2 separate regions of the Homo sapiens genome follow, and region 2 is linked to region 1. A link means that fine-mapping ties the variant in region 1 to the expression of a gene that starts in the linked region. Tissue or cell type: whole blood. Region 1 holds a variant in brackets; the other region holds the start of a gene. All regions are shown on one strand. Distances are between the middles of the regions.

The links. PIP is the estimated chance that this variant, and not a neighbour inherited with it, causes the effect.
Region 2: ARHGEF11 starts here. The variant in region 1 is fine-mapped to the expression of ARHGEF11 in whole blood (INTERVAL, PIP above 0.99).

What each region holds. Positions count from the first base shown.
Region 1 is chr1:157,014,457-157,019,456 of GRCh38, forward strand. The region is part of intron 1 of ARHGEF11 (Rho guanine nucleotide exchange factor 11); the gene reads right to left. Among named protein-coding and RNA genes, the nearest start is that of ARHGEF11, 29 kb to the right of the region's middle. The variant G/T (reference allele first, on the strand shown) is at 2,136.
Region 2 is chr1:157,043,540-157,048,539 of GRCh38, forward strand. It overlaps ARHGEF11 (Rho guanine nucleotide exchange factor 11), which reads right to left and starts at 2,203. Exons shown (of 41, transcript NM_198236.3): 1 at 760-2,203. The coding sequence starts at 791. RefSeq lists a silencer at 2,114-2,413.

The DNA of each region.
Region 1 (5,000 bases):
GAGTGTAGTGGTGCCACTGTAGCTTACCGCAGCCTCAAACTCCTGGGCTAAAGTGATCCAATTCTCTCTTAAAGGAAAAAATATTTCCTTGACCCAACAATCCCCTCTAGCTATTACCAATCAACCAATCTCTTTTCTCCACTTCTCATCCAGACTCCTGGGAAGAGTCGTCTACATCGACTGTCTCCAGTTTCTCACCTCCCACTTACCCCTCAATCCACTGCAATCTGGCTTCTGCCTCTAGAACTCTGATGAGATTGTTTTCAGTAAGATTACCAACAGCCCCTCAACTGAGAAGTTCAGAGCATTTTCTTTTCCAGATCTCATCTCACTGGACCTCTCTCTGCATGCAACAATGTTGATTCCTCTTGCTTTCAGACTTGCTACTTTATCCTACCCTTCCTTCTTAGGAGACAGTGCGTACTCTCCTTTTAACCAACTTTTGTAACAATGCGGACTCTCATTCTTGTCTTCAGCCTTCAGTCTCTTTTAGATTTCAGGCTCCATATGGAACTCTCTAGGGGACAACACAGCCAACAGATGCTCAAACTCAACACACTGACAAACTCATCTCCATGCACCACACCTCTGTCCTCCTCTCGTATTCTCTCAAGCCCCAGGTAGGAATTCTGGCAATCAATCTTGACTCTTCCTTTTCTCTGACCACATAGCCAGTTAAACAATACATCCTGGACAATTTGATACAAATTGTCTATGCTTCTCATTTTCCCCTCTACTTCAGGAATTTCAGAGACTGCTTGATATAGTGGTTAAGAGGACAGAACCTAGGGCCACACTGCCTAGATCTGAATCCTAGTTCTACTACTTACCAGCTGTGTGATTTGGGTAAGGTGCTTAATGCTCTGTCTCATTATACGCAGCTATGAAATGGGGACGCTCACAGGCTGTTATGAGGATTAAAGGAATTATTATGTGCAAAGTTCTTAGAACAGTGCCTGGTACATAAGTACTATATGAGTATTTATCAAACAAACAAGCAACCCCACTCTCCTCCCCTGGCTGGGTTATCTTTACCCTGCTCCTAACTCACAGGGCACATCGCCATCACTGCATTCATCTTGCACTGTGGTCATCTATTTAATGGTCTTTGAGCTACTTGAGGCAGGGATTGTCTTATCCATCTTTGCAGCCTGAAGGTCTACTGCCATAATTACACTCTAGGTCCTCAGTAATGCGCAGTGTGTGTCTGCTAATGGTCACAATATCCTGAAGGGCCTTACTGCATGCAGCACAGGCATGTGTGGATTAGTGCCTCTTTCCACTGGAGGAGGAAGCACTGGGATGGAAGGTCAGCCATGGGACTCTTGGCGACCTGGCCCAACGAGCATGTCTCCCAGGGGGAGCCAGATACACTCATTCACCCAATCAAAAACATTTACTGAATTTCCACCAGGTGCCAGTCACTTTGCTATTATGGTCCCTGCCCTCTGGGAATTCTCAACTGAGGAGGGGGAGAGATACCTTTTCACAATATGGGGATTGGAAGAGTGATGTGATGACTACTGCAGTCTTAAAAATAAACCAGGAGTGTGTGGATATCTCTAAGATTTTAATCCGTAATGAAACAACAAAAGAACAGTAGGAAAAACGCTTGCCAGGAGTCAGACTACCCAGCCAATCACAAATAAGACCTAAACCCCCAGGTGTCTATTGTGAGGACTGAATGAGGCACCCATAGCACCCATTACAGGCCTGGCACATGGTCAGCGAGCAACAAAAGGGAGCTACTTCTAATATTACTGTTTTTATTTATTTTATCTTTTTATTTTTTTTGAGACAGACTATTGCTCTGTCTGCAGTGGCACGATCTTGGCTCACTGCAACCTCCGCCTCTCAGATTTAAGCGATTCTCCTGCCTCAGCCTCCCGAGTAGCTGGGATTATAGACACCTGCCACCACACCCAGCTAATTTTTGTATTTTTAGTAGAGACAGGGTTTCACCATGTTGGCTAGGCTGGTCTCAAACTCTTGGCCTCAAGTGATCCACCTGCCTCGGCCTCCTGAAGTGCTGGGATTACAGGCGTGAGCCACGGTGCCCAGCCTAATATTCCTGTTTTTAAAATTATTTTTCTCTGTTGTTAGGTTGTTTGGCGTCTGTTCATTTTGTGTGTGTG[G/T]TAACAGTATTGTGACTGTATTTTTAAGCGTTTTCATCTTTTAGAGATACATACTGAAAAATTTACAGATAAAATGTCTGTGATTTGCTTCATAATCTGATGAAGGGTATGTAGGAGTGTAGACAAAATGAAATTGGCATGAGTTGATAACTGTTGTTCCTTATCTCATCCTACTCTTGTTTGAAATTTTCCATAATAGAGTTTTTATTATTTATTTATTTATTTATTTATTTATTTTGAGAGAGAATCTTGCTTTGTCATCCAGGCTGGAGTGCAGTAGCACAATCTCAGCTCACTGCAGTCTCCACCTCCTGGGCTCAAGCGATCCTCCCACCTCAGCCCCCAAGTAGCTGGGACTACAGGCACACCCCACGACATCCAGACTAGTGAGATTTAAGGCTAGAAGCTAAGGCTGCTGCCATACCATTAAGATTTAAAAAAGAAAATAGGAAGGAGAAGAACTATTGATAAAGATGTATTCCTTTCAGGCTCCCCATAATAATAAAGCAAATATGGACAATCAGGATGGCGAAGAGGTGGAACTTCCCCAGATAGCTCAGTTTAAATACTTTCTTATCAATGACCTCCAAGTATTCCTCAGGCAGTCATACCCTTCCAGAACAGCAGGGTCTGCAGAGATCATCTCACTGCCCAGATTCTGAATGGTCCTGCCTCTAAATTCCCAGCACACTCTGTATCATAACTACCATGGCACTTATTACACTTACTTGTTAAATTATAATTATTTGTTTGTATGTCCGTCTCTTCCATGAATCACTAGTGTCTGATACAGTGGGTACTAAATGTTCACTGAATTAATAAAGAAATGGAGAAGGCCGGGCGCAGTGGCTCATGCCTGCAAACCCAGCCCTTTGGGAGGTCGAGGCAGGTGGATCACGAGGTCAGGAGATCGAGATCATCCTGGCTAACATGGTGAAACCTTGTCTCTACTAAAAATACAAAAAATTAGCCGGACGTGGTGGCACGCACCTGTAATCCCAGCTACTTGGGAGGCTCAGGCAGGAGAATCACTTGAACCCAGGAGGTGGAGGTTGCAGTGAGCCAAGACCGCGCCACTGTGCTCCAGCCTGGGCAACAGAGTGAGACTCCGTCTCAAAAAAAAAAAAAAAAAAAAAAAAAGAAACGGAGAAGAGGATTTAATAATTTCTTTTGTTTTGATTTTTAAAGAATTTCTGGTAAGAGAGAATCTAACATCTGCTCCAAAGGTCTACCAAGAAGTTCTAAAATCCTGATATTCTCCAAAACTCATAAAACATACAGATTGGAATGAAGAGGTAAAACTGTCATATTTCCAGACAACATGACTTAGAATCAAGCAAGCTGATTCTAAAATCCTAGAGAATTAACAAAAAAGCTATGAGAGAATAGGTAAATTTAGCAAGGTTTCAGGATATGAAATCTATATATAAAAATCAAGTATGTTTATACATACCAACAAAAATAAATGAAAATTGATAATTAAATACTACCAGTTAAAATAGCCTCAAAAATATGAAATAGGGATAAATTTGATAAGAAATGTATAAGACTTGACACTAAAAACTACAAAACATTGCTGAGAGAACTTAATGACCTAAATAAAAGAAGAAATACATGGTATTTATAGACTGACAAACTGAATGTTGTTAAAATGCCAATTCTCTCTGAACTGATCTATGGTTTCTGCACAATCCCAATCATAATCTCAGAAGGCACTTTTACAGAAACTGACAAATTGATTCCAAAATCTATATAGAAATGAAAAAGACCAGCCGGGCGCGGTGGCTCATGCCTGTAATCCCAGCACTTTGGGAGGTCAAGGTGGGCGGATCATGCGGTCAGGAGATTGAGACCATCCTGGCTAACATGGTGAAACCCCGTCTCTACTAAAAATACAAAAAAAATTAGCTGGGCGTGGTGTCGGGCGCCTGTAGTCCCAGTTACTTGGGAGGCTGAGGCAGGAGAATGGCGTGAACCTGGGAGGCGGAGGTTGCAGTGAGCCGAGATCGTGCCACTGCACTCCAGCCTGCTGACAGAGCAAGACTCTGTCTCAAAAAGAAAAAAAAAAAAAAGAAATGAAAAAGACCTAGAATACTAAAACAATTCTGGAAACAGAAGAACAACATTGGAAGACTTGATTAACTGATTTTAAAACATATTGTAAAGCTACAATAATCAAATCAGTGTGTTTTTGATATAGATCAGTGGAACACAGTAGAGTCTGGACCACACATATACGATCAATGGATTTTCAGCAAAGATGCCAACACAATTCAATGAGGAAAGAATATGATTTTCAAGTAATGGTGCCAGAACAACTGGACCTCATATGCAAAAAACAGTAATAAATTAACCTCAACTCTTCTCTCACACACTACACAAAAAGTAACGAAGAATAAATCACAGATTTAAATGTAAGAGCTAAAACCATAAAATGTCTAGAAGAAAACAGAGGAGGAAAATCTTAGTGGCTATGAAATTGGCAAAGATTTATTCATTAAATACAAAGAGTACAAACTATAAAAGAAAAACCTTATATATTGGATTTCATCAAAATTAAGAACTTTTGTTCCTCAAAAGACAAAGCATTTTACTGTATGCAAATTTAAACAAGTTTTAAAAGACACTGAAAATGGATAAAAGACCCAAACAAATACTTCAACAAAAAAAGGCATATACATGACAAAATGACACATAAAATTATTATTAGTCATCAGGGAAATGCAAATTAGAACCACAATAAGATGTTACTATGTATGTACTAACATGGTTAAAATTAAAAAGACTGAACTTACCAAGTGTTGACCAGGATATAGAACAACTGGGAATAGGATACACTGCCAGTGGGAATGTGAAATTATAAAA
Region 2 (5,000 bases), 29 kb after region 1:
GCCCAGCAGGCCTACGAGCCCAAAACAATTTCTTCTGGCTCCAGGCAGAGGGAAGGCCCATTTTGCAGAGTCAAGCTTATTAAGAACAGCTTGGAAGATTAAACCTAGAGCATCAGCCGGTTGGCAGGTCTCAATTCAAACTCTAAGCTTGGAGGAGAGGAAATTCTAATGTGATCTATGCATTTTGGGACCATGTCAGCTACTGGTAAAAATCCAGACTTGCATGGGTGCAAAGGATGTTTCTGTCCCATCATTCAGGCCAAGAACATCCTCTTCATTTCTAGAAATGGGATCCACCCCGTCACCAAGCCCCACCATTCCATACCAACCAGCCTGGTGGAGGCCCACGCCTCTGCCAGGGCCCTTCTCCCAGCAGCTCCAACACCTAAAGCCAGTCCCCCTAGTGCAACCCTAGGAGCTCACAAGACTGGCTTGCCCCCACCTGAGACTAGCAAGTTGGGTGGACTCAAATTCAGCCTCTACCCTGGCAAAAGTCAAAAGCCACTGGAAGCACATCCTCCTCCTTTCCCTCTCCTGGCTTCACTGTTTATTGCTTATATTCAAAAGACGCTGAATCAAGAGCTATGTTTTTGCACATAACCACATAGGCTGACAGTCCCCAGAGACTAATGCTCCTAGCCCACCAATTCCCATAGCCCACCCAGACCCCTATTTTCAACCATTTATTAAAATGCAACACCACCCCTCCCAGTCTTTCCTTTAGTCAATGTTGAAAAATCAAATTATTAGCAAACCTACCTGTCTATACTCTGGGGTAACCTTACACTCATGGTTTCTCGGTGTCTCCACGGTTCCAGAATCCTGTAGCTTTGGTGTCTTGATCAGGATTGAATCGCTTGCAATTTTTGAGCAAGGTGAGAGGAGGGCCTCCCAACTTGAAGATAGAATCCTTTCTCCTCCAGCTCTCAGGACCCTGGTAACTGATGCTCCACTCTACTTCTACCAGTGAACATGATTTCCTTTCTCAGCCCCTCTTCCCCTCCCCCGCTTTAAAAAAAAAGAAAAGAAAAGAAAAAAGAAAAAAAAAGGAAAAGAGGAAAAACTACGACCTTCTCAGAAACCAAAAACCCAGCCACGAATCTCTTCAAGGTTAGCACTATGGCCAAAAAAAAATGAATCACAGAAAAATGTGCCTTCAAAATATCACTGTTAACTGCAAAGTACAGATAAAACCATCCTTTAAATCCAGCTTTCTCAGCTGTCCTTCTGTTGGCAAGAGACCCTCTAGCTCAAAGGGGGAAAGTAATTTTCTAGTCTCCAATGCTTAATATGACAACAGCAAATATCTTTGAGGAAAGGAAAAAAAAAAGGATTAATAAATCCGAAATGGCACTTGGAAAAATTCTTTCGGCTGATTTGTACAGTAAAATAATAAATAAAACCATACAATAGTATGTACACAACAGCACTCCTTCCAAGTCCAGTGCAACCCTGGGAACCAAAATTTATGGACTTCCTTAAAAAAAAAAAAGCTTTTACATTAAATGTTTTGAAATTCTTAAATGAGCCAATTGCACCAAAAAAAAAAATAAAATAAAAATCAAAGAACACCTGAAATGCAATGCTTTTTACCTTTAAGATGGTAGTAATGATAACAAACCAGAGATAATCTCTGAAAATATTCTCTCCTTTTCTTTTTCCTTTAAACTTGCAGGTTCCTCCACCTACCCCAGCCTGATTCTCAGACCCAGCCTACGTTCGGCCTTTTTCTGAAAGACAATTTCCTGAGTTAGTTCTGCTGTTGGGCTCCTCCACATCCAGGCTCCGAAATTTTCTCTTGCCTCAGCCTCCATGAAACGGAGATTTCGCTTCCTCCCGTTCCCCCTTCTCTCTCCCTCTCTCTCGCCCGGCCAGAAAGACGGCTCCCTTATTATTCGTTCGGATTATTATTGTGGATTTGAGTTCGAGGTGGGTTTTTCTTCCACACCAGACTCCTGGAAAATCCGATCGCCTGTCTCCTCTCGGCCTCTCCTTGCCTCCCTTTCCGCCCCTCGCCTAATCTCGCAGGCAGGAGCCCGCAGTGCCTCGCGCAGGACGCCCGGCCGGGCCTCGGGCTCCCGGCGCCGCTCGCCCCGCGCCCGACCGCCGTGTTCCGGCCTTCGCGGCCGCTCGGGACGCCAGGCTCGGCGCACAGGGAAGGCTGCGGCGGCTGCGGCAGGCCGGCACGAGCGGGCGTCCGACTGCCGGCGTCGCGGCCGCGCTCGCCTCCTTCCGGGCCCCTTCCCCCTCGGTTCGCCGCTCGCTCGGGCGCAGGCCCGGCCGGCCGCCCCCCTTCCCTCCCTCCTTCCCTGCGAGCCTTTCTCCTTCCCTCGCTCCCGCGGGGCGGGGCCGCAGGCTCCTCCTCCTCGCTGCGCTGCCCGCCGCCCGCCGGCCTTTCCCCTCACGCCGCGGCGGCCGGGGGCGGGGGCGGGAAGCTGACCGCCTTTCCCTGCCTCGGTTCCCGCGGCCGCGACTCCCGCCGACCGGCCCGCCCCTGTCCCGGCCTCCCTGCGCGCCCTGCCCCCCACAACCCTTTGCCGTCGCTCCTCGGCCGGTCCCCTCTGCGGCCCCTCAGTCGCCGGCCCTGCCCCTCGGCGCGGCCTAGCGGGTTCCCATCTCAGCCGGATCCCCGGCCCGGCCCGCGGGCGACCCCGGCCCTGACCCCGCCAGGCACCGCGCGCCGTCCCCGCCGCCGCCACCGCCACCGCCACCCCTGCCGCCTTTTCGCCGCTTTTCCTCGGCTGCTTTTCCCCCTTTTATTGACTTCTGCTCGGGAGCCGACCTTTGTTTCCTACCCCCTGCCCGCCCAGCCACCGTGCCCGCGCCCCGTGCCCCTGCCCACGGGTGCAGGTTTACCTCTTTGCGTCCACCGGCATTACCCCGGCGCCCGCAGCTGCGGCTCACCCTCTCTCCACCTCTCTTCTGATCTTATTTTTCAAACATTTGTTGCGGCCTCCTTCGTGGTGTCAGTTCTTTTAACTGTTTCCTCCCGTTTCTGTGGTCCTTCCCACTTCTAATACCACCGACTTAGGGGGAAGACCCTTCGCTGTTTCCTCTCGGGTTGGGTTGGGCATCTTAATAGCAGGCTGTGTGAAGTGTCTTTGAACTCTATGGAAGAGCCTTTCCAGAGCAATTCTATTTTCATAACCCCCTCTCATAGAATCACAGTTTCTAAATCTTTACAAGTAACGTGACATTTGTCAGAAGGTGCCGAGCGTTATGATTAAAAATCATTAAGGCCGAGGCGGGGCCTGAGGTCAGGAGTTCGAGACCATCCTGGGCCAACATGGTGAAACCCCCCCCCTCTACTAAAAATACAAAACTAGCCGTACGTGGTGGCGCGTGCCTGTAATCCCAGCTACTCGGTAGGCTAGGGCACGAGAATCGCTTGAACCCGGGAGGCGGAGCTTGCAGTGAGCCGAGATTGCGCCACTGCACTCCAGTCTGGGCAACAGAGCGAGACTCCGTCTCAAAAAACTAATAATAATAAAATTTTTTTTAAAAAATTATTAAAATAAAAAAACTCTCACTAGGATTGGGGAGTGGACTTTGCCTTCTTGCCTAGGTAAATGCCATTGTAAAATACTCTGCAGGCAGTGGGGTGTTTGCATAAGTTCTCTCCTTTCACACTACCTGGATTGTTCTGGGAGGGGGTGGATATGTATATGTAAATTATCTATACACATTCGTGAGCTCTGGAGTGACCTCACCAGTGTTAGAAGTGGTAGATATGCAAATTGCAAGAGGAAAAAGAAACGAATAAGCATCAGTTGAAGACCTACTATGAACCAGGAACTTTCCCTTTAATGTATATCAGGTATAGGTTGGCAAATAAAAGAACCTGCTTCCTTCACCCTGTCTCCACCAACCCCTAGGCCAGAACTCCCCAAAACAGGTGATCTGCCCAGCATTTGAAGCACAGTCTAGATTGTTGCTGACTTAATTGTGTCTTTCTTTCCCATACTACCCGCAAAAATGATGCTCTCAAATGTGGACACTGCTCTGTGGTGACAGACCACTGGTTGCCACACATTTTAAAATAATGTTTTCTTGGCCAGGTGCGGTGGCTCACGCCTGTAATCCCAGCACTTTGGGAGACCGAGGCGAGTGGATCACCTCAAGTCAGAAGTTCGAGACCAGCCTGGCCAACATGGTGAAACCCCGTCTCTACTAAAAATACAAAAAATTAGCTGGGTATGGTGGGGAGCGCCTGTAATCCTAGCTACTCCGGAGGTTGAGGCAGGAGAATCGCTTGAACCCGGGAGGCAGAGGTTGCAATCAGCCAAGATTGCGCCACTGCACACCAGCCTGGGTGACGAGTGAAACTCCATCTCAAAATGATAATAATAATGATAATGTGTTCTTAATATATGTAATATTTTTAAAGCAAGTATTTACATATATTTTATTACATATCTTATACAACATTGCCTAGTGTAGAAATATTAAAAGGTTGAAATTTAAAAATGAACATTTTTTAAATCATGCTTTTTGGTGAAAGTTAATTGCTGTCATAACTGGAAAAGATGCTTGCCAAAGATAGGTAGATTCAAACAGAAGAAGTATGCCCTTGATTGCATTTATTAAATCATGATACTTATTTTCCAATCCCATTCATCAACAATGCAAAGACTTCTAATTGAAATTCAACTAGTAAATTTATATCTTAAGTCAATCCTTCTTGAATGATTGGAAGGTGTTACATTTTTATATTCTTAACAAATGGGTTCCAGCCATTAAGAAATTTCATTTAACTTTAAAAAATAGGTTTTCAAATTCTGTTTCCTAATTTTTCAGTGTGCAAAGGTTTTGATAGGTGAAACCATTGTTTTTGGTAATTAAAAAAATCACAATATTGGAACCATTTCCAGTCATCCGTCTTCAAAATACTTTTTCCTAAAGTATGTGTTTCTTTAGAAAAGCAGTGACTTCCTCGCTCGTAGATAGACTGTCATCTTAACCTTGAAGGGACAGCTTGAAGGGACAGATTAAGCGGTGTT